Regions from separate parts of the Homo sapiens genome. Here regions 1, 2 and 3 are each linked to region 4. Evidence: fine-mapped expression QTL. A gene starts in region 4. Each other region holds a variant in brackets. All regions are shown on one strand. Distances are between the middles of the regions. Region 1 has its middle 16 kb from the start of SYVN1. Region 2 has its middle 6.6 kb from the start of MAJIN. Region 3 has its middle 34 kb from the start of POLA2. Region 4 holds the start of MRPL49 (mitochondrial ribosomal protein L49).

The links.
Region 1: its variant is fine-mapped to the expression of MRPL49 in whole blood (INTERVAL, PIP above 0.99).
Region 2: its variant is fine-mapped to the expression of MRPL49 in whole blood (INTERVAL, PIP above 0.99).
Region 3: its variant is fine-mapped to the expression of MRPL49 in fibroblasts (GTEx, PIP above 0.99). The same link has a PIP of 0.9 or more in gastroesophageal junction and tibial artery.

Annotation. Positions count from the first base shown.
Region 1 is chr11:65,147,960-65,153,107 of GRCh38, reverse strand. No RefSeq gene overlaps it. Among named protein-coding and RNA genes, the nearest start is that of SYVN1, 16 kb to the right of the region's middle. RefSeq lists a silencer at 215-394 and an enhancer at 2,303-2,352. The variant G/A (reference allele first, on the strand shown) is at 2,068.
Region 2 is chr11:64,976,110-64,981,257 of GRCh38, reverse strand. No RefSeq gene overlaps it. Among named protein-coding and RNA genes, the nearest start is that of MAJIN, 6.6 kb to the right of the region's middle. The variant C/T (reference allele first, on the strand shown) is at 3,097.
Region 3 is chr11:65,225,670-65,230,817 of GRCh38, reverse strand. It overlaps the pseudogene SLC22A20P. Among named protein-coding and RNA genes, the nearest start is that of POLA2, 34 kb to the left of the region's middle. RefSeq lists an enhancer at 4,749-4,948. The variant C/T (reference allele first, on the strand shown) is at 2,302.
Region 4 is chr11:65,120,097-65,125,228 of GRCh38, reverse strand. It overlaps MRPL49 (mitochondrial ribosomal protein L49), which reads right to left and starts at 2,908. Exons shown (of 4, transcript NM_004927.4): 1 at 2,805-2,908; 2 at 577-727. The coding sequence starts at 2,882. It overlaps FAU (FAU ubiquitin like and ribosomal protein S30 fusion), which reads left to right and starts at 3,095. Exons shown (of 5, transcript NM_001997.5): 1 at 3,095-3,139; 2 at 3,408-3,490; 3 at 3,585-3,729; 4 at 4,193-4,248; 5 at 4,423-4,599. The coding sequence starts at 3,416. The coding sequence ends at 4,548. RefSeq lists enhancers at 2,618-2,887, 3,048-3,137.

The DNA.
Region 1 (5,148 bases), 28 kb before region 4:
CGGCTATTGGCTGGGGGGCCTCAGTTCCTCACCATGTGAACCTGTCCACAGGGCTGCTGAGTGTCTCATGACATGGCAGCTGGCTTCCCCAGAGCAAGAGATCCAAGAGACAGTGCAGACAGGAAGCCAAAGTGTGTTTGTGCCAGCTCTCCTAGGTCTCTCACCATCACTTTCATTGATTCTATTCTTTAGAAGTGAGTCACTAAGTCCAGTTTACATTCGCGGGAGGGGAGCGAGGTTCCATGTCTTGAAAGGAGGAGTATCAGGCCAGGCGCGGTGGCTCACACCTGTAATCCCAACACTTTGGGAGGCCAAGGCGGGCAGATCATGAGGTCAGGAGTTCAAGACCAGCCTGACCAACATGGTGAAACCCCATCTCTACTAAAAATACAAAAATCAGCCAGGCATGGTGGCACGCACCTGTAATCCTAGCTACTCAGGAGGCTGAGGCAGGAGAATCACTTGAATCTGGGAGGCAGAGGTTGCAGTGAGCCGAGATCGTGCCACTGCACTCCAGCCTGGGTGACAGAGCGAGACTCTGTCTAAAAAAGAAAGAAAGAAAGAAAGAAAGAAAGAGAGAGAGAAAGAAAGAGAGAGAGAAAGAAAGGAGGAGCATCTAGAATGCATGGACATTCCTAAAACCACCTCACCTGGGAGACTCAAGCCCTGGTTGAACCATCCTACTTGGTGCCTGTACTGGAATAAGAGGAAATCAGACAGCCAGAGGATTGTTTCACTTTCAACTCAGCTACAAAACTCCTTGGCCATTCATGTTCCCTGGCAATCACACTGCAGATGTCTAGAAACTTCGCATTTCCACTTTTTTTCTTACAAAAATGTCATTCAGAATCACATTTCCACTTTCTGAGGTAACTAATCACACCCTCTCCTCTCTCTGCAAAGCTCCAACATGACTTCTTTCCCTTTTTCTTTTTCTTTCTTTGCTTTGAGACAGGGTTTCACTGTCACCGAGGCTGTTTAGTGCAGTGGCTTGATCTCTGCTCACTGCAACCTCTGCCTCCTGGGCTCAAGCCATCCTCCCACCTCAGCCTCCTGAATAACTTGGACCACAGGTGCGTGCCACCAAGCCCAGCTAATTTTTTGTAGAGACAGGGTTTCGCCATGTTGCCCAGGCTGGTCTTGAACTCCTGGGCTCAAGCAATCTACCCCCCTTGGCCTCCCAAAATGCTGGGATTACAGGTGTGAGCCACTGCGCCCAGCCTCTTTCCCTTTTTCTTCTCCTCTATTTTACCTGAATCTGCACCTGTACACACTTTCTCTGCCTCCTCTCCTACTAGAATGGAACAGCCATCTTTCTCCTCCTTTCTTTTTTATTTTTATTTTTTTATACAGATAGGGTCTCACTATGTTGCCCAGGCTGGTCTCAAACTCCTGGGATCAGGTGATCCTCCCACCTCAGCCTCCCAAAGTGCTAGAATCATAGGCATGAGCCACCATGCCCAACCTCTCTCTTCCTTTCAAAGCTTCTGGGTCCTCCTCTTCTGCTCGACTCCTCTTCCTTCTTGATTTCTCAAAGTCATCACTTCTCTACACTTCTCTACGTGCTTCCTGGTTTATTTTTTGTCTTTAGTATTCTGTAAGCTTCATAAGGGAAGGGACTTTTTTCTATTTCATTTGCTAATACATTCATGACACTTAGAACAAGACCTGGTTCAAGGTGGGCACTGGATAAATACTTGGGTGAATAATAGAGTGAATGAATGGGAAGAGGGAAACTCCACCCATTCTAGCTGGAAGGAAAAATGAGGAGGCAGGAGGAGCAGGTGTGAGCGGTAGGAGAAAAGGTATGTGCCCTGAATTTCCTGCACTGGGCAGGAGTCTCATGAGGGTAGGTGTCTTTTTGCTCACCCTGGAATCCCAGCACCCAGCCCTGCACCTGGCACATACTGTGTGCTGATTGCCCAATCTGTACCTTAGTGCCCCAGCCCCTTTCTTTGTACTAGTCTTGGGTGATCCATGTTGCCCATGGATCTGTCCCCAGCCTGCCCCTCTATCCTACTTCCCTTTCTCAGATGCTCAGGCCAGCCTGAATTGAGTCCTAATGTG[G/A]CCTCACTGCCTGGCTGCCCGTGCCCTGGCAGAGGGAGGGGACATCAGCCTCCTGTCCCTGCTCTGCCCTCCGAGGACACCCAGACTCGAGACAACTGCCTAGGGTGGCAGCCTGCCAAGGGGCCTGAGGTGGCTGTTCCCTGGCTTTGCACAGAAACTGTTGGGAATGACTCAGCCCCGAGACACTGCTTCAATAGGAGGAAGAAGTCACCACAGGCCCTCACTGGAGGTGCAGCGCAGTGTCAGAGAAGTAGATAGAGTGCCTCCCGGCCACACGCCAGCAGGGTGACTCTGGCTGACTTTCTTAGCCTCTTCGAACATCTGTTTTCTTTTCTTATTTTTCTTCCTTTCTGTAACCTCAAGAATATCTGTTTTCTCAGTAATAAAATGACTAGTTGCCATGGGGATGAGAAAATGGACCTGTTACAAAGCGCGGGGGTTGAGAGAAGGGCCATGGGGCCACCCTGTCTGGGCTTAAGTCTTTTTTTTTTTTTTTTTTGAGAAGGAATCTCGCTCCGTCACCCAGGCTGGAGTGCAGTAGCGCAGTCTTGGCTCACTGCAACCTCCGTCTCCTGGATTCAAGCAATTCTCATGCCTCAGCCTTCCGAGTAGCTGGGACTACAGGCACCCACCCCCAATGCCTGGCTAATTTTTGTATTTTTAGTAGAGATGGGATTTCACCATGTTGCCCAGGCTGGTCTCGAACTCCCGACCTCAGGTGATCCCCCCACCCTTGCCCTCTCAAAGTGCCGGGATTACAGGCGTGAGGCACCGCACCCGACCTGGGCTTAAATCTTGACTTTGTCTTTCCCTATTAGTTGGGCAAACCTCAGGCAAGTTACTTAATCTCTCTGAGCCTCAGTTTCTTCATCTATGAAACCGATATGATAATAGTACCTGACTCAGGATTGACATAAAGGTTAAAACTGTAACTGCCCAACATTTATTATTCTCAGCCCTGCCCTGAAGGATGTCACAGACACAGAAGTGATTACAATGCAGGGTCATAGGGGCTGTGTTCACACAGGGACAAATGCTGTAGGCACCATGTGGTGGGGAGAGACTCACTCAGGTTCATGGCTGATGCTGGAAATGTGTAAGGGTGTGCACTAAGAATTTTCCAGACAAAGAAGAAAGGGAAAAGCATGCTACTTTATATAGGTTTGAGCAAAAGTGAAGATAGCTAGGCTGAAGAGGCAAGCAGAGTTTGGGGAATGAGACAAGTTAAGTTTGACCACAATACAAAGTGCATGATGAGGGCCGGGTAAGGTGGCTCATGCCTGTAGTCCCAGACTTTGGGAGGCTGAGGTGGGTGGATCACCTGAGGTCAGGAGTTCGAGACCAGCCTGGCCAACATATGAAATCCCATCTCTACTAAAAATACAAAAATTAACTGGGCATGGTGGCAGGTGCCTGTAATCCCAGCTACTCAGGAGGCTGAGGCAGGAGAATTGCTTAAACCCAGGAGGCGGAAGTTGTTGTAAGTCGAGATCACACCACTGCACTCTAGCGTGGTCGACAAGAGTGAGACTCCGTCTCAAAAATAAATAAATAACAAAGTGCATGATGAGGATTTGGTGGGGTTAGGAGGCAGGCTGGAAGCATATCATGCAGAAATCCAAATGCCCCCTTAGAAAGGCCTTTGTCAGATTAGCAAGCTCACACTTGTCACTGAGCATCTGTCTCAGCCTTCTCCCAGCTGGCTGCCTGGACCACAGAGGCTGGAACGGTAAAAAAAAAAAAAAAAAAAAAAAAAAAAAAAAAAAAAAAACCACACAAAACTTGAGTTACATATATTCCTTCTGGTTTTTTTTTTTTTTTTAAAAGACTGAGTTTCACTCTTGCTCCCCAGGCTGGGGTGCAGTGGTGTGATCTCGGCTCACTGCAATCTCTGTCTCCTGGGTTCAAGTGATTCTCCTGCCTCAGCCCCCCAAGTAGCTGGGATTACAGGCATGTGCCACCATGCCTGGCTAGTTTTTTATTTTTAGTAAAGATGGGGTTTCTTCATGTTGGTCAGGCTGGTCTTGAACTCCCGACTTCAGGTGATCCGCCCCCTTGGCCTCCCAAAGTGCAGGGATTATAGGTGAGAGCAACCGCACCCAGCCTCCTTCCACAGTTTCAATCATGTGAGACTTACATTTGGAACTAAGTGGAGTCGAGGGAGACAGGTAGCAGCCCTCGGGCACTCCTTCTGCTGGTGTGGTTCCAGCAGGGATAGTAAGGCTGGGCCCACTGCACTGTGGAGCTTTCCAGATTCTGGGCTTGCAGTTAGTGTCTCACCTGAGCAGCTGAGTATGCACTGCCTGTGACAATGCCACTCCAAGTAGATCTGCCAGGGACCCTTCCCAGGAAATTATTTATAACAATTCCAGCAGAGATGGCTTCTCATCCTCCTTGAAGCTACTGGACTCTGAGCCCCTGATTCTGCCACAGCTCATCACTCTAGACCTGTCAGGCTTAACACAATTCACTTATCCAACCATTCAATCATCCATCATCCACTTAGCCAATCCAGTCTTTTTTTTTTTTTTTTTTTTTTTTTTTTTTTTTTTTTTTTTTTTTTTTTGAGACAGAGTCTAACTCTGTCAGCCAGGCTGGAGTGCAGTGGCGCTATCTTGGCTCACTGCAACCTCGACTTCCTGGGTTCAAGTGATTCTTCTGCCTCAGCCTCCTGAGTAGCTGGGATTACAGGCACGCATCACCATACCTGGCTAATTTTTATATTTCTAGTAGATATGGGGTTTCATCCTGTTGGCCAGGCTGGTCTTGAACTCCTGACCTCACTCAGATGATCCACCTGCCTCGGCCTCCCAAAGTGCTGGGATTACAGGCGTGAGCCACCACGCTCAGCCCAATCATTTGTTGACTCACTTCTTCAACACTCCCTGAGTTCTTATTCTGTGGCAGGCCCTGGGTCTGGGGCCAAGAACAGGGAGTCAAATTAGATTAGGGCTGTGAAACAAGCCACTCTCAAACCTAGAGGCTTATGACAATACCAATCATTTATTTTCTTACCATTATGCAATTTGGGCAAGGCCTGGTTGAGACAGCTCTTCTTGTGCCTCCAGCTCCATCCTTGGA
Region 2 (5,148 bases), 140 kb after region 4:
GATACAAAAAAAAAGTAGAAAGAATGAATAAGACCTACTATTTGATGGCATATAATAGGGTGACTATAGTCAATAATCATGTAATTGTCACTTGGAAATAATTAAAAGAGTGTAATTGTATTGTTTGTAACACCAAGGATAAATGCTTAAGGGGTGGATACCTCATTCTCCATGATGTGATTATTGTGCCTTGCATGCTTGTATTCAAAACATCTCATGCATGCCTACTGTGTATTCACAAAACTTAAAAACTGACAGAAAAGAAGTGGTCGGATTCAGGGTGTGCTTTACAGATACAGCTGATGGGATATGCTCATGGACTGAGTGTGGTGAAAGGGAGGAAGGAAGGATGACTGAGATTTGGGACCTGAGCAATTGATGGTTGGTGGTGCCAAAAACCAAGAAAGGCTGGAAGAGGGGCAGTTTGGGGTTTGGTGGTGGGGATCAGGAGCCCTATTTTGGCCATGTTAAATTTGGGATACCTATTTGACATCCAACTGGTTTAAATAAGAGTCTGGAGTCTGGGAAATGTCAGGACTGGATAAATAAATTTGGAAGCCATCAGTAGGTTGGTGGACAATGAGAGATGGGCAAGATGACCTCTGAGGGCCTTTGCAGCCTGTGTTTTCTTGTGCACCCAGAGCTCTCAGCCTGATAGTCTTTCCCTTATCACTCCTTCATGCCCAGAATTTGCCCCCATCCTTCCTTTTTGTTTTTCTGAGATGGAGTCTCGCTGTCGCCCAGGCTGGAGTGCAGTGGCGCGATCTCGGCTCACTGCAGGCTCTGTCCCCCTGAGTTCACGCCATTCTCCTGCCTCAGCCTCCTGAGTAGCTGGGACTACAGGCGCCCGCCACCTCGCCCGGCTAATTTTTTCTATTTTTAGTAGAGACGGGGTTTCACCGTGTTAGCCAGGATGGTCTCGATTTCCTGACCTAGTGATCCACCCGCCTTGGCCTCCCAAAGTGCTGGGATTACAGGCGTGAACCACCGCGCCCGGCCCCATCCTTCCTTTTCAAATGCTCCTTTCTCCAGGAAGCCTCCTGTAATCTTCCAAGATAAAAGTGACCTGCAGGCCCAGCGCGTTGGCTCATACCTGTAATCCCAGCACTTTGAGGGGCCAAAGCAGGCGGATCATCTGAGGTTGGGAGTTCAAGACCAGCCTGACCAACATGGAGAAACCCCGTCTCTACTAAAAATACAAAATTAGCCGGGCATGGTGATGCATGCCTGTAATCCCAGCTACTCGGGAGGTTGAGGCAGGAGAATCGCTTGAACCCAGGAGGCAGAGGTTGTGGTGAGCCAAGACCATGCCATTGTACTCCAGCCTGGGCAACAAGAGCAAAAATCCGTCTCAAAAAAAAAAAAAAAAAAAGTGACCTGCTTTCCTCTCCATGCCCGTCCTGTGCTTTTCTGTCATCTTCCTTTTTGTGTGACTGTGTCTTGCTACCCTCTTCCCTCCCTCAATGATAGCAACCAGTGTGGCACATAATGATTATGATTATTATTATTACTGAGACAGGGAGGCCCAGGCTGGAGTGTAATGGCACAAACACAACTCACTGCAGCCTTGACCTCCCAGGCTCAAGTGATTCTCCCTTCTCGGCCTCCCAATGTACCAGATTCTCAGGCGTGAGTCACACCTGGCCGACACATAATGAATACTTTTATTTTTTAATTTTTTACTTTTTAAAATTTTTGTTAGAGATGGGGTCTTGCTATGTTGACCAGGCTGGTCTCGAGCTCCTGGCCTCAAACGATTCTCCCATCTCGGCCTCCCAAAGTTCTGTGGTTACAGCCATGAGCCACTGTGTCCGGCCAATGAGTAGTTTTAAAAAGCCTATGCTGGCCGGGTGCGGTGGCTCACGCCTGTAATCCCAGCACTTTGGGAGGCCGAGGTGGGCAGATCACGAGGTCAGGAGATCGAGACCATCCTGGCTAACACGGTGAAACCCCGTCTCTACTAAAAATACAAAAAAAATTAGCCGGGCGTGGTGGCAGGCGCCTGTAGTCCCAGCTACTCAGGAGGCTGAGGCAGGAGAATGGCGTGAACCCCAGGGGATGGAGCCTGCAGTGAGCCAAGATCGTGCCACTGCACTCCAGCCTGGGCGACAGCGAGACTCTGTTTCAAAAAAAAAAAAAAAAAAAAAAAAAGCCTATGCTTTCGGAGGCAGTGGAGCATAGCGGTTAGTGGTGAAACAGCTTAGGCTCCAGGGCCAGACAGGATTAGGTTCAAATCTCAGCTCTATTATTTCCTCATTCAACTTCAAGACTGAGCTTTCTCATCTGGAAAATGGAGATTTAAAAAGGTACCCACCTACAGTCCACCCAACATATATGTGTGTGTGTATATACACAAATATATGAATGTATAATGTAGATAGGTGATATGGTTTGGTTGTGTCCCCACCCAAATCTCAACTTGAATTGTATCTCCCAGAATTCTCGCGTGTTGTGGGAGGGACCCAGGGAAAGGTAATTCAATCATGGGGGTCTATCTTTCCCGTGCTATTCTCGTGACAGTGAGTAAGTCTCACGAGATCTGATGCGTTTATCAGGGGTTTCTTCTTTTGCGTCTTCCTCATTTTTCTCTTGCTGCTGTCATGTAAGAAGTGTCTTTTGCCTCCCGCCATGCTGAGGCCTCCCCAGCCATGTGGAACTGTAAGTCCAATTAAACCTCTTTTTCTTCCCAGTTTCAGGTATGTCTTTGTCAGCAGTGTGAAAACGAACTAATACGATAGGTATAATAGAAAAGTATATGTTCAGCCAGGCATGGTGGCTCACACTTGTAATCCCAACACTTTGGGAAGCCAGGTGAGAGGATGGCTTAAGCCCAAGAGTTCAAGACCAGCCTGGGCGACAGAGCGAGACTCTGTCTCAAAAAAGAAAAAGAAAATTCACTGAGCTACACATTTATGATCTGTGGTGGGTTTTTGTTTTGTTTTGTTTTGTTTTTTGAGACAGGGTCTGGCTCTGTCGCCCAGGCTGGAGCGTAGCGGTGGGATCTCGGCTCACTGCAAGCTCCGCCTCCCAGGTTCACGACATTCTCCTGCCTCAGCCTCCCGAGTAGCTGGGACTACTGGCGCCCGCCACCACGCC[C/T]GGCTAATTTTTTGTATTTTTAGTAGAGACGGGGTTTCACCGTGTTAGCCAGGACGGTCTCGATCTCCTGACCTCGTGATCCGCCCGCCTCGGCCTCCCAAAGTGCTGGGATTATAGGCGTGAGCCACCACGCCCAGCCTGACCTGTGGTTTTTTCTATTATGTCTGGTTACTTTGGAAAAAGGGGGTTGCGTGTAAGGAGTAGCTCACAGTCCCTGGCATATAGTAAGTGTTCAGTAAGTGTTAACTACTCCAAGTGAATGAAAAAACTCATGACTTGCCCCCAAGTGAAATCCATTAAAAATCAGAACCATGGACAGATCAGAGCCTGTGCTCAGGGAGGGTTGAAGGAAAAACCTCAGGTCTGATATGGGGGACCTGAGGCAAGAAGGAATCTGAGAACTTTCCTCTTGGATTAGTGGTTCAGTGCCTTCTGGGGGCATTCCCATCCTGCAGGAGAGAGACTATTCCTTGGGGACTGTAAGTGTCTTTGTGTTCCTGCAGAAATGCATGCCATTTTAAAAGGTCTACAGCCCCGTTTTTCAAAGCAGAGAATGCTGAAGTCTCTCCAGAGAGGCCAGTCCTGCCTCCACTACATCCGACAGCGTACCCAGGCCCTTGCAAGCTTTCCTCCTTGTGTCTTGGCTTCTGTTTATCTGGTGAGGGGGCGGACAGGGAAGAGACTCCAGTCAGGGTAAAAATAACCTAGGACAGATCTCTCAATCATGCCAAGACTCCTGAGTCTGACTCCCTGGGGTGGGCCTGGACCCAGTGTCTACAACAGTTTTCATGGACGATTCTTGGGAACACTTGAGCCTCTAACAGCTTGGTCTTTTGAGTTAGATTCAAACACAAAACATAGCCAAAGAGAGCTCTTCTGAAGGATCTCTGTGGTTGGGGAGGGGACTCCCGGGTTAGTGGTTCACCTCCTTGCTGGGGTCCTCTGCTTCTGTCCTGTGACAGCCACCAACCGCAGGAATCGGCTCGTGTTACTAAAACTGCAAAAAGGCCTTCAAGGTCTGGGCTGAGCCTGGAAGGATTTGGAGGCCTCTTTGAGCAAACCTATCCCACCCCATCACCTCTTCAATCTCCACAAGGCTCATACCTGGATGGTCAATGGGTTTCACAGCCTTACTGTGAGTCAGACACCCAACACACAGAGAGGGAGTGGTAAACTGAAGACTGAATTACACTACCCTAAGGGTGGGGGCAGATCCCCCTGTCCCTACCCCCAGGGTTGCCTCTCTGAGTCAAGTCATTTCAATTCCCCATGGCCCCGTCAGACCAGTCTCTGGCTGGTCAGATTTTCTGAGCTGAGGCCCGTTGCCTGGCAGGTAATTGACCTGGGAAGCCCAAAGGGAGGTGGTAGGGGTTGGGGAGCCCCAGGTGCTGCAGGAAATGGAGCTGTTGATTAAGTGGCTCCTTCCCTCAGCCTTGGAGGCTGGGAAGCTGCACAGGCCCAAGAAGCAGCAGCAGCTCTCTAAGGAACAAGACCTGGTTCTGACCCTCTTGGGGAGATCATGGGTCTGCAGAGCATTTCCCTAAGAGCTTCAGGGGCTGGCTGTTAATGGGGGCCCTATTCCCAGCACTCAATTCTTCCTCAGTAGGTGCTAGGCTTCTTCCTAGGACAGGATTTGTTTTGTTCTCTGGGGCTCTCAGACTGAACTGCTTAGGGGGAGGAAAGCCAGTTACAGAATGTGACAATGTGACCAGGGCCCCTCTGAGAAGCCTTTCTGGGAGTCCCTGGGAGAAAGGGACCAGGAGAGGGCCGGGCATGGTAGCTCACACCTGTAATCCCAGCACTTTGGGAGGCCGAGGCAGGCGGATCACCTGAGATCAGGAGTTCCAGACCAGCCTGGCCAACATGGTGAACACCCGTCTCTACTAAAAATACAAAAATTAGCCGGGTGTGGTGGTGCACACTTGTAATCCCAGCTACTTGGGAGGCTGAGGCAGGAGAACTGCTTGAACCCAGGAGGCAGAGGTTGCAGTGAGTCGAGATTGTACCACTGCTCTCCAGCCTGGGCAACAGCGAGACTCCATCTCAAATAAA
Region 3 (5,148 bases), 110 kb before region 4:
CACCACGCCCAGCTAATTTTGTATTTTTAGTAGAGATGGGGTTTTACTGCATTGACCAGGCTGGTCTCAAACTCCTGACCTCAAGTTATCTGCCCACCTCAGCCTCCCAAAGTGCTGGGATTACAGGCATGAGCCACTGCGCCTGGCCAAGAAAAAAAAAATTCTTATGTAAGGCGATAAGAAAAAAGATAACCCTGTAGAAACATTGGCAGAAGTCTTGGATAAGCATTTCATTAAAAAAAAGCCATCCAAAATACCAATAAGTTCATGCAAATATTTTTACATTCCTTAGACATCAGAGAAGTGCAAATTGGAAATCACAGTACAGTATCACTACACACTCACTATAATGGCTAAAATTAAATTACAGACAATACCAAGTGTTACTAGGGATGTGGAACAAGTTGAACTCATATGCTTCTAATGAGGGTGTGAATTGGTATAACCACTTTGGAAAACTGCTTGCTTCTATTACAGAGAAACACACCCATACTTTATGATCCAGCAGTTCCAATCCTAGGTATGTATCTGACAGAAACGCAAGCGTGGGCTCAGTGCAGTGGCTCACATCTGTAATCCCAGCACTTTGGGAGGCTGAAGTGGGAGGATTGCTTGAGCTTAGGAATTTGAGACCAGCCTGGGCGACATAGTGAGATCCTGTCTCCATATTTAAGGAAAGAAAGAAAGAGAGAAAAAGAAAGAAAGAAAGAAAGAAAGGAAGGAAGGAAGGAAGGAAGGAAGGAAGGAAGGAAGGAAAGGAAGGAAGGAAAGGAAGAAAGGAAGGATGGAAGGAAGGAAGGACAGACAAGTGTGTTTTTTCACCAAGAGAAATGTACAAGAATATTTATAGCAGCAGTATTTGTAACAGCCCAACCTGGGAAAAGCCCAATGTTCTTCAGCAATAAAATAGGTAGACTGGGCGCGGTGGCTCACGACTGTAATCCCAGCACTTCAGGAGGCCGAGATCTGCGGATCACAAGGTCAGGAGATTGAGACCATCCTGTCTCTACTAAAAATACAAAAAATTAGCCGGGCGTGGTGGCACGCGCCTGTAGTCCCAGCTACTCGGGAGGCTGAGGCAGAGAATTGCTTGAACCCAGGAGGCGGAGGAGGTTGCAGTGAGCTGAGATCGTGCCACTGCACTCCAGCCTGGGCAACAGGGCGAGACTCCGTCTCAGAAAAAAAAAAATTGGTAACGTTTCTGTATTAGTTTCCAATTGCTGCTGTAACAGATTACCACAAATTTAGTGCCATAGAACAACACAAATGTATTATCTTACACTTCTGGAAGTGAGAAGCCTAACGTGTGTTACTGAGCTAATGTCAGAGTGTGGGCAGGGCTGTGTTCCTTCTGAAGACTCCATGGGAGAATCTGTTTGCTTGCCTTTGCCAGCTTCTAGAGGCTGCCTGCATTCCTTGACTTGTGGCTCCTTCCTCTGTCTTCAAAGCCAGCAGCACACAGCGTCTCCAAAGGTCTCTCTCTCACTCTGACCTTCTTCTTCCACTTGTAGGGACCCTTGTGATCGTACTGGGCCCACTCAGATGATCCAGGGTAATCCTCCTTCAAGATCCTTAGTTACATCTGCAAAGTCCCTTTTGCCATAGAAGGTAACATATTTATAGATTCCAGGGATTAGGATGGGGACGAATGTTACTTATTGATTTCTAGTAATATATATACATTATATATAGACGTAGATATATTTTCTGGATATGGTTTTTTGTTGGATATTGGTTTCTGCAAGTATCTTATTCTACTGCATACCTTGCTTTTTAAAAATAATTTTTATTTTGTAATAAATATATATTTACAGAAAAGCTATAAAGATTCAAACATCTTTGGGGGTCATTATTCTGTCTACCACAAGTAGTATATTCGTACCATGGATTGTTATACACGAAGAAAGAACGAACTAAATTACATATGACAACATGAGTGCATCTCACAAACGGTATAAATTACAAAAACTATGTAGCTCAAGTTATATAAAGCCCAAAAACAGGCTAATGTAATCTGTGGCATTAGAAATAAGGATAGTGATTCCCATAGGGGAGGGTAATGACTGAAGAAGACATGGGGGGACGGGGTTTCTGGAGGCTGATCATGTTCTGTTTCTTGACCAGTGTGTTGATTAATGGGTGTGTACAGTTTGTGAGAATTTGTCAAGCTGAGCCTTGTGCATTTTTGCATGTGTGTTATACTTCAATAAAAAGTATATGTGGGCCACGTGCGGTGGCTCATGCCTGTAATCCCAGCATTTTGGGAGGCTGAGGCAGACAGATCCCTTCAGGTCAGGAGTT[C/T]GAGACCAGCCTGGCCCACATAGAGAAAACCCGTCTCTACTAAAAATACAAAAACTAGCTGGGCATGGTGGCACATACCTGTAGTCCCAGCTACTCAGGAGGCTGAGGCAGGAGAATTGCTTGAACACAGGAGACAGAGGTTGCGGTGAGCTGAGATGGCACTACTGCACTCCAGCCTGGGTGACAGAGTGAGACTCTGCCTTGAAAAAACAAAAACAAAAACAAAAACAAAAAAACAAATAAACCTGTATGTGGGAAGAAGAACTCCAAGATGGTCCATCAAATTCCTGGCCCGGGTGTACACAAACCTTCTCCCAGTTATTCAAACACTAATCTAGGTGTTGTGAAAGGATTTTGCAGATGTAATTAAGGTCCCAAATCACTTAACTTTAAAACAGAGATTTTTCTGGGAGGGCCTGATCTAATAACATGAGATTTAAATCTGGGTCTAGAGGTCAAAGACTGGGAGTTGGAGATTCAAAGCATGGGAGAGATTTGATATGAGGAAGATATTCCTTTGAGGTGGAGGAGGCCACTTAGCCAGGAATGTAGGTGGCTTTTATGAACAGCCTGTGAGGAAATGGAGACATAAATCCTACAGCTGCAAGCAGTTAAATCGAACCAACAATTGAAATGAACTTGGCTGTGAATTCTTCCCCAGAGCCTCCAGAAAGGAGGCTTCGTTTCAGCCTCCTAAGAGCCTGAGCAGAGAACCCAGCTGGCACTTCTGGCCTGCAGAATTGTAAGCTCATAAATGGGTGTTATTTTAAGCCACTAAATTATGGTGATTTGTTATAAGCAATATAAGACTATAACATTCACAAAAAATAAAGTGGCCATTGAGAAATTTGAGGGACACTCAGTCAAAAACCACCAGTTTTACATTCAGTTCTTTTGCTTGTTAACGTGTCTGCTCACCTAGGAGGAAAGAAGGGGGAAAGGCTCCTGAGAATGTGAGCTCTAGAAACGGAGTCTTCCCAGAGAGACTGGACCACGACTAGCCAGCATTGCCACTCAGGCGAGATTGGCAGTGGCAGGGAGAATGGACCAGACATTCTCTAAGATTCCTTTTCATCTTATAATTCTGTGGCTCACAATATTCTAAAATTCATTCATTCACTCATTGGTTCATTCACTCATCAAATATTTATTGCAAAGCTATCACATGCCGGAAGCTGGTTACATGTAATGTTGTAAAAGTTTTTACAGATGTGATTAAGTTATTAAAAAAACAAAAGCAGAAGAGGTAGAGTATTAATCCTTTTTTTTTTTTCTCTTGAGACACTCTGTCTCGCTCTGTTGCCCAGGCTGGAGTACAGTGGCGAGATCTTGGCTCACTGCAGCCTCTGTCTCCCGGGTTCAAGTGATTCGCCTGCCTCAGCCTCCTGAGTAGTTGGGACTACAGGTGCGTGCCACCACACCTGGCTAATTTTTATATTTTCAGTAGAGATGGAGTTTCACCATGTTGGACAGGCTGGTCTCGAACTCCTGACTCAAGTGATCCGCCCACCTCGGCCTCCCAAAGTGCTGGGATTACAGGCATGAGCCACCACACCCAGCCCCTATTAAATCCATTTCTATAAGAACGTGTGTGTGTGTGTGTGTGTAAGTATGTGGGTGTCATGTATGTACTAAGAGCTGCAAGGATACAAATTCATGCCTGACAGAAATGGGAGATGGGAGATGTTCAGAGGTGGAAGGGAGAGTAGGTTGAGAGGGACATGCACTTATGTACCTGATAACAGAAAACAACTCATATTCAGGCACTGTTCTACCTGCTTTACAGACTAATTTTCACAACAGCCTTATGTGGTAGGTTCTATTATGATGCCCATGTTACAAATGGAGAAACTGAGGCACAGAGCGGTTAAGTAACTTGTCAAGGATCACAAAGCCAGTAAGTGGCAGAGCTGAGATTCAAACCAAAGGAGTACGTTCGAGTCCTGCTTCTTAACCAATGAACTACACTGCCTGTTTCTGGATTGTTTGGGGAAAAAATGTTTTTAACAATGAGTATGCATGCTTCTCAGAATTTAGAAAAAAACTACAAGGTGGCTCAACCCTGTTATTCCAGCCCTTTGGGAGACCAAGGGGGAGGATCGCTTCAGTCCAGGAGTTCTAGACCAGCCTGGGCGACATTGCAAGACCCCACCCCATCTCTATTTTTAAAAATGAGCCCGGGCTTGGTGGCAGGCACCTGTAGTCCTAGCTACTACAGAGGCTGAGGTGGGAGGATCGTTTGAGCCTGGGAGGTCGAGGCCGCAGTGAGCTATGATTGTGCCACTGCACTGCAGCCTGGGTGCCCGAGCAAGACCTTGTCTTAAATCAATCAACCAGTAAAGAAAAAAATCCCAGTTAATTGAAGGCATTTACAATAGGGTTTGTGGAAGTTTGTGAAAGTTCACCAGTTCCTAACACTTCCTCTTTCTCCTCCCCCATCCTTTTTCGAACCCCAGGACTCCCCATCCCCACCTCACCCCAGACACACTGGTGAGGAAGGGGTCGGGGGGCGGGCAGGCTCACCGCCTCCCGCTCCCCAAAGCCAGGACTGTGCAGTTGATCCCAGGAGCGAGCCCGGCGCGGCTCCCTGCCGGCAGCGAAGCGAAACATTTGGACATGGCCCCGATTTTTCGGGTGCGGTTGGCAAGTCCCGGCGTGCGCGAACCAAACCTGCGGTTCCCGGGGCAGCTTTGAGCGGGTCGGGTCGGCTCCATAGGAGAATGGCCCCACCTGCAGGCAGAGAGCTCCGGATAGCTGCCGAGTCACTTTCTCAGCAAAAACGGGCTTTTGCTGTTTCCAGAAGGATCCAAGAGAGGACTTTCAGCTCTGGAATTTTGAACTCAGGAT
Region 4 (5,132 bases):
GGATCTTTGGGTCCCCCTCTAGGCCAACCCTTGCCCTCCTCCACTGGGTCAGGGAGGCCGAAATCAATCTCTGGAACAAAGAGATTGGGATTTGCAAGCACTGAGCACCTACCATATGCTGGGCTCTGCACTAAGGGCTCTATGTACTGAGCAGATTATCTCCATTTTGCTAAAACAGGTTGGGTCAAGCTAAGTGACTAATTCAAGATAACATCAACAGTAAATAAAGCCAAATTCAAACCCAGAACTGCCTGACTCCAAGCTGTGTTCTTAATTACAGTACATAGTCTGCTGGGGGGAAAGAAGGTCCAAGCTCTTGGGTTTTCTCTCTGTTGTTTACTTTCCCCCATATGGGGAAGACCTGATCTCAATAGTGTGGATGGATGAGTACCAGTGAACAACAGAAGGCTCCACTCCTCGGCTCTTCCTTGGGCATGAGACAGATGTAACCCAGAGGGATTGCAAAATGAGTCCTGAACCCACTGGAGAGTCCAGAGCCTCATGGGGGAGGCCAACCTCTGGGGAGGAGGTGATGCTCCGTGAAGCTTTCAAATCATCCCTAACCACCCAGCTCACCTCTGGGAGGCTGCCAGCCACTAGGGGTAGGATAATGTTCATGCTTTGGGGGATCTGGGATCCTGGTAGCCGGTAACAGGCGCTCCACAAACTGATATTCATCCACAGACTCCACAAACCTGGGGTAATCTGGAGGGCCCTGGGTCTGGCTCTGAAGCAAAACAAAAATCCCATTTCTCCATTAGCCTACCCAACACAGGATGGCATAACTTCAGTAAGTAGAGAATGGAAACATTACAGGCAGAGAGAATGACATAAATAAAAGGCTGGGCGACGGTGTGAAAGCTATCAGAATCAAAATGGAGTGAGTCACTTGGGTTAAAAATCCCAACAAATAGAGCTAGGGAGGGCCACGAAGAGAGAGTTCTTGGGCACAAATACTTAATAACAAGAACTACCACAAAAGACTGCAAAAACCACAGCCTTGCACAAAGGCCACTTCAACCTTACACAAAAAAATATTTCTGGCTGGGCAAGGTGGCTCACGCCTGTAATCCCAGCACCTTGGAGGCTGAGGCAGGAGGATCATCTAAGGTCAGGAGTTCAACACCAGCCTGGCCAACATGGCGAAACCCCATCTCTACTGAAAATACAAAAATTAGCCGGGCATGGTGGTGCATGCCTGTAATCCCAGCTACTTGGGAGGCTGAGGCAGGAGAATTGCTTGAACCCAGGAGGTGGAGGTTGCAGTGAGCTAAGATCGCACCATTGCACTCCAGCCTCGGTGACAGAGCGACGAGACTCTCTCAAACAAAACAAAACAAAACAAATTCCTGCATGGCCATCTGTCCAACAACTGCCTGTCCAATCTTGAACTGGCACCACCCATGTTATTCATCCTTGTAGCCAAGGATAACTGTCTCAAAACAATTATGTAATACTCATTTTTCCTTTCCTTTATTTATTTTTATTATTTTTTTAGATAGAGTCTCACTCTGTCACCTAGGCTGGAGTGCAGTGGTGTGATCTCGGCTCACTGCAACCTCCGCCTCCCAAGTTCAAGCAAGTCTCCTACCTCAGCCTCCCAAGTAGCTGGGACTACAGGCACACGCCATCACACCCGGCTAATTTTTGTATTTTTTCTAGAGACGGGTTTCACCATGTTGGCCAGGCTTGTCTCAAACTCCTGACTCCAGGTGATCTACGCGCCTTGGCCTCCCAAAGTGCTGGGATTACAGGCGTGAGCCACCGTGCCTGGCCCATTTTTCTGTTAAAAACCTTTGTCTTCTTTTACCTCCCTGATAAGCACATAGTCTATACCCATTCCCGAATAAATATCCTTTTCTTTTAGAGTCTGTTATTTAGGTTGACATAAGATAGCACCAGTCTTTGGTTTTCCATGGTGCAGGGTACAGATGGGATGGAAAGGAGGCTCAGGTACTCTGAATGGTCTGCCTCTCAGGATTTCTGTGGGATGCAAAAGAGTATATGTACACTTCTGAAAAGTCAATCAAGCCTTTAGAAACTTAAGGCTTAACTTTCTGTCTCGGTTTTAGAAATAGATATTATTATATTGGCAGCGTGGCCTTGTTTGTACCTCCATGATTGCCTGGCTGGCCTTGCTAACCTAATCACATCTGTGACGGGATATAGTGATGTTTAATCTTATGATTGCCTTAAGAATTAAGGCAATCAGACGGGTTCGGCGGCTCATGCCTGTAATCCCAGCACTTTGGGAGGCCGAGGCGGGCGGATCACGAGGTCAGAAGATCCAGTCCATCCTGGCTAACAAGGTGAAACCCCGTCTCTACTAAAAATACAAAAAATTAGCCGGGCATGGTGGCGGGAGCCTGTAGTCCCAGCTACTCGGGAGGCTGAGGCAGGAGGATGGCGTGAATCTGGGAGGCGGAGCTTGCAGTGGGCCGAGATCGCGCCACTGCCCTCCAGCCTGGGCGACAGAGCGAGACTCCGTCTCAAAAAAAAAAAAAAAAAGAATTAAGGCAATCATAATTCCCCACGCACACTCATATGCTAGGACCCCGCCCCTTACCTGAAACGTTGTGGCTTATATAGACACTGCCAGGCACTGTGTTAAGTGCTCCCAAAGAGCACCCCAGTCTACCATTTTCCCTCTCGATTCTATATGTACACTCGGGACAAGTTCTCCTGATCGAAAACGGCAAAACTAAGGCCCCAAGTAGGAATGCCTTAGTTTTCGGGGTTAACAATGATTAACACTGAGCCTCACACCCACGCGATGCCCTCAGCTCCTCGCTCAGCGCTCTCACCAACAGCCGTAGCCCGCAGCCCCGCTGGACACCGGTTCTCCATCCCCGCAGCGTAGCCCGGAACATGGTAGCTGCCATCTTTACCTGCTACGCCAGCCTTCTGTGCGCGCAACTGTCTGGTCCCGCCCCGTCCTGCGCGAGCTGCCTGCCCAGGCAGGTTCGCCGGTGCGAGCGTAAAGGGGCGGAGCTAGGACTGCCTTGGGCGGTACAAATAGCAGGGAACCGCGCGGTCGCTCAGCAGTGACGTGACACGCAGCCCACGGTCTGTACTGACGCGCCCTCGCTTCTTCCTCTTTCTCGACTCCATCTTCGCGGTAGCTGGGACCGCCGTTCAGGTAAGAATGGGGCCTTGGCTGGATCCGAAGGGCTTGTAGCAGGTTGGCTGCGGGGTCAGAAGGCGCGGGGGGAACCGAAGAACGGGGCCTGCTCCGTGGCCCTGCTCCAGTCCCTATCCGAACTCCTTGGGAGGCCTGGCCTTCCCCACGTGAGCCGCCGCGACCACCATCCCGTCGCGATCGTTTCTGGACCGCTTTCCACTCCCAAATCTCCTTTATCCCAGAGCATTTCTTGGCTTCTCTTACAAGCCGTCTTTTCTTTACTCAGTCGCCAATATGCAGCTCTTTGTCCGCGCCCAGGAGCTACACACCTTCGAGGTGACCGGCCAGGAAACGGTCGCCCAGATCAAGGTAAGGCTGCTTGGTGCGCCCTGGGTTCCATTTTCTTGTGCTCTTCACTCTCGCGGCCCGAGGGAACGCTTACGAGCCTTATCTTTCCCTGTAGGCTCATGTAGCCTCACTGGAGGGCATTGCCCCGGAAGATCAAGTCGTGCTCCTGGCAGGCGCGCCCCTGGAGGATGAGGCCACTCTGGGCCAGTGCGGGGTGGAGGCCCTGACTACCCTGGAAGTAGCAGGCCGCATGCTTGGAGGTGAGTGAGAGAGGAATGTTCTTTGAAGTACCGGTAAGCGTCTAGTGAGTGTGGGGTGCATAGTCCTGACAGCTGAGTGTCACACCTATGGTAATAGAGTACTTCTCACTGTCTTCAGTTCAGAGTGATTCTTCCTGTTTACATCCCTCATGTTGAACACAGACGTCCATGGGAGACTGAGCCAGAGTGTAGTTGTATTTCAGTCACATCACGAGATCCTAGTCTGGTTATCAGCTTCCACACTAAAATTAGGTCAGACCAGGGCCCCCAAAGTGCTCTATAAAATTAGAAGCTGGAAGATCCTGAAATGAAACTTAAGATTTCAAGGTCAAATATCTGCAACTTTGTTCTCATTACCTATTGGGCGCAGCTTCTCTTTAAAGGCTTGAATTGAGAAAAGAGGGGTTCTGCTGGGTGGCACCTTCTTGCTCTTACCTGCTGGTGCCTTCCTTTCCCACTACAGGTAAAGTCCATGGTTCCCTGGCCCGTGCTGGAAAAGTGAGAGGTCAGACTCCTAAGGTGAGTGAGAGTATTAGTGGTCATGGTGTTAGGACTTTTTTTCCTTTCACAGCTAAACCAAGTCCCTGGGCTCTTACTCGGTTTGCCTTCTCCCTCCCTGGAGATGAGCCTGAGGGAAGGGATGCTAGGTGTGGAAGACAGGAACCAGGGCCTGATTAACCTTCCCTTCTCCAGGTGGCCAAACAGGAGAAGAAGAAGAAGAAGACAGGTCGGGCTAAGCGGCGGATGCAGTACAACCGGCGCTTTGTCAACGTTGTGCCCACCTTTGGCAAGAAGAAGGGCCCCAATGCCAACTCTTAAGTCTTTTGTAATTCTGGCTTTCTCTAATAAAAAAGCCACTTAGTTCAGTCATCGCATTGTTTCATCTTTACTTGCAAGGCCTCAGGGAGAGGTGTGCTTCTCGGGTTGGTGGTATGTCCCCTAGGAGAACAGTGAGGCAGAAAAGGCAGAAGCCTTTGGTATGGGGGGAAGAAATGGTAAACTACAAGAGAAATTTCCTGTGAAGAAACAGCTACAGATCCTGGGGGGCTTCAGATGTAAAATTGGGGTTATTCCCTATCCTAAGTAACTTGATCAGTCCCCCCAGGTCATTCTTTTTCATCTTCTAAACAGAGAAGGTAGCAGGAATCACTGTGGTGAGAGGTTTGTTATGGAGGCAGCAATAGAAGGGATGGGTGGGGGAAGAGGTTTGTATAGAAGGTGAACCTGGCCGTTCCCTGAACTTGGTACCAGCTGTGGCCTTAGAGTCCAGGGCAGGAATCTGGTCTGCCTTGGTTTTAGAAGTAAATATTATGTTGGGAGCATGGCCTCGTTTGTACCTCTGTGACTGCCTGGCCGGACTTGGTAACCTAATCACATCTGTGATTGGATATAGTGAGGTTTCA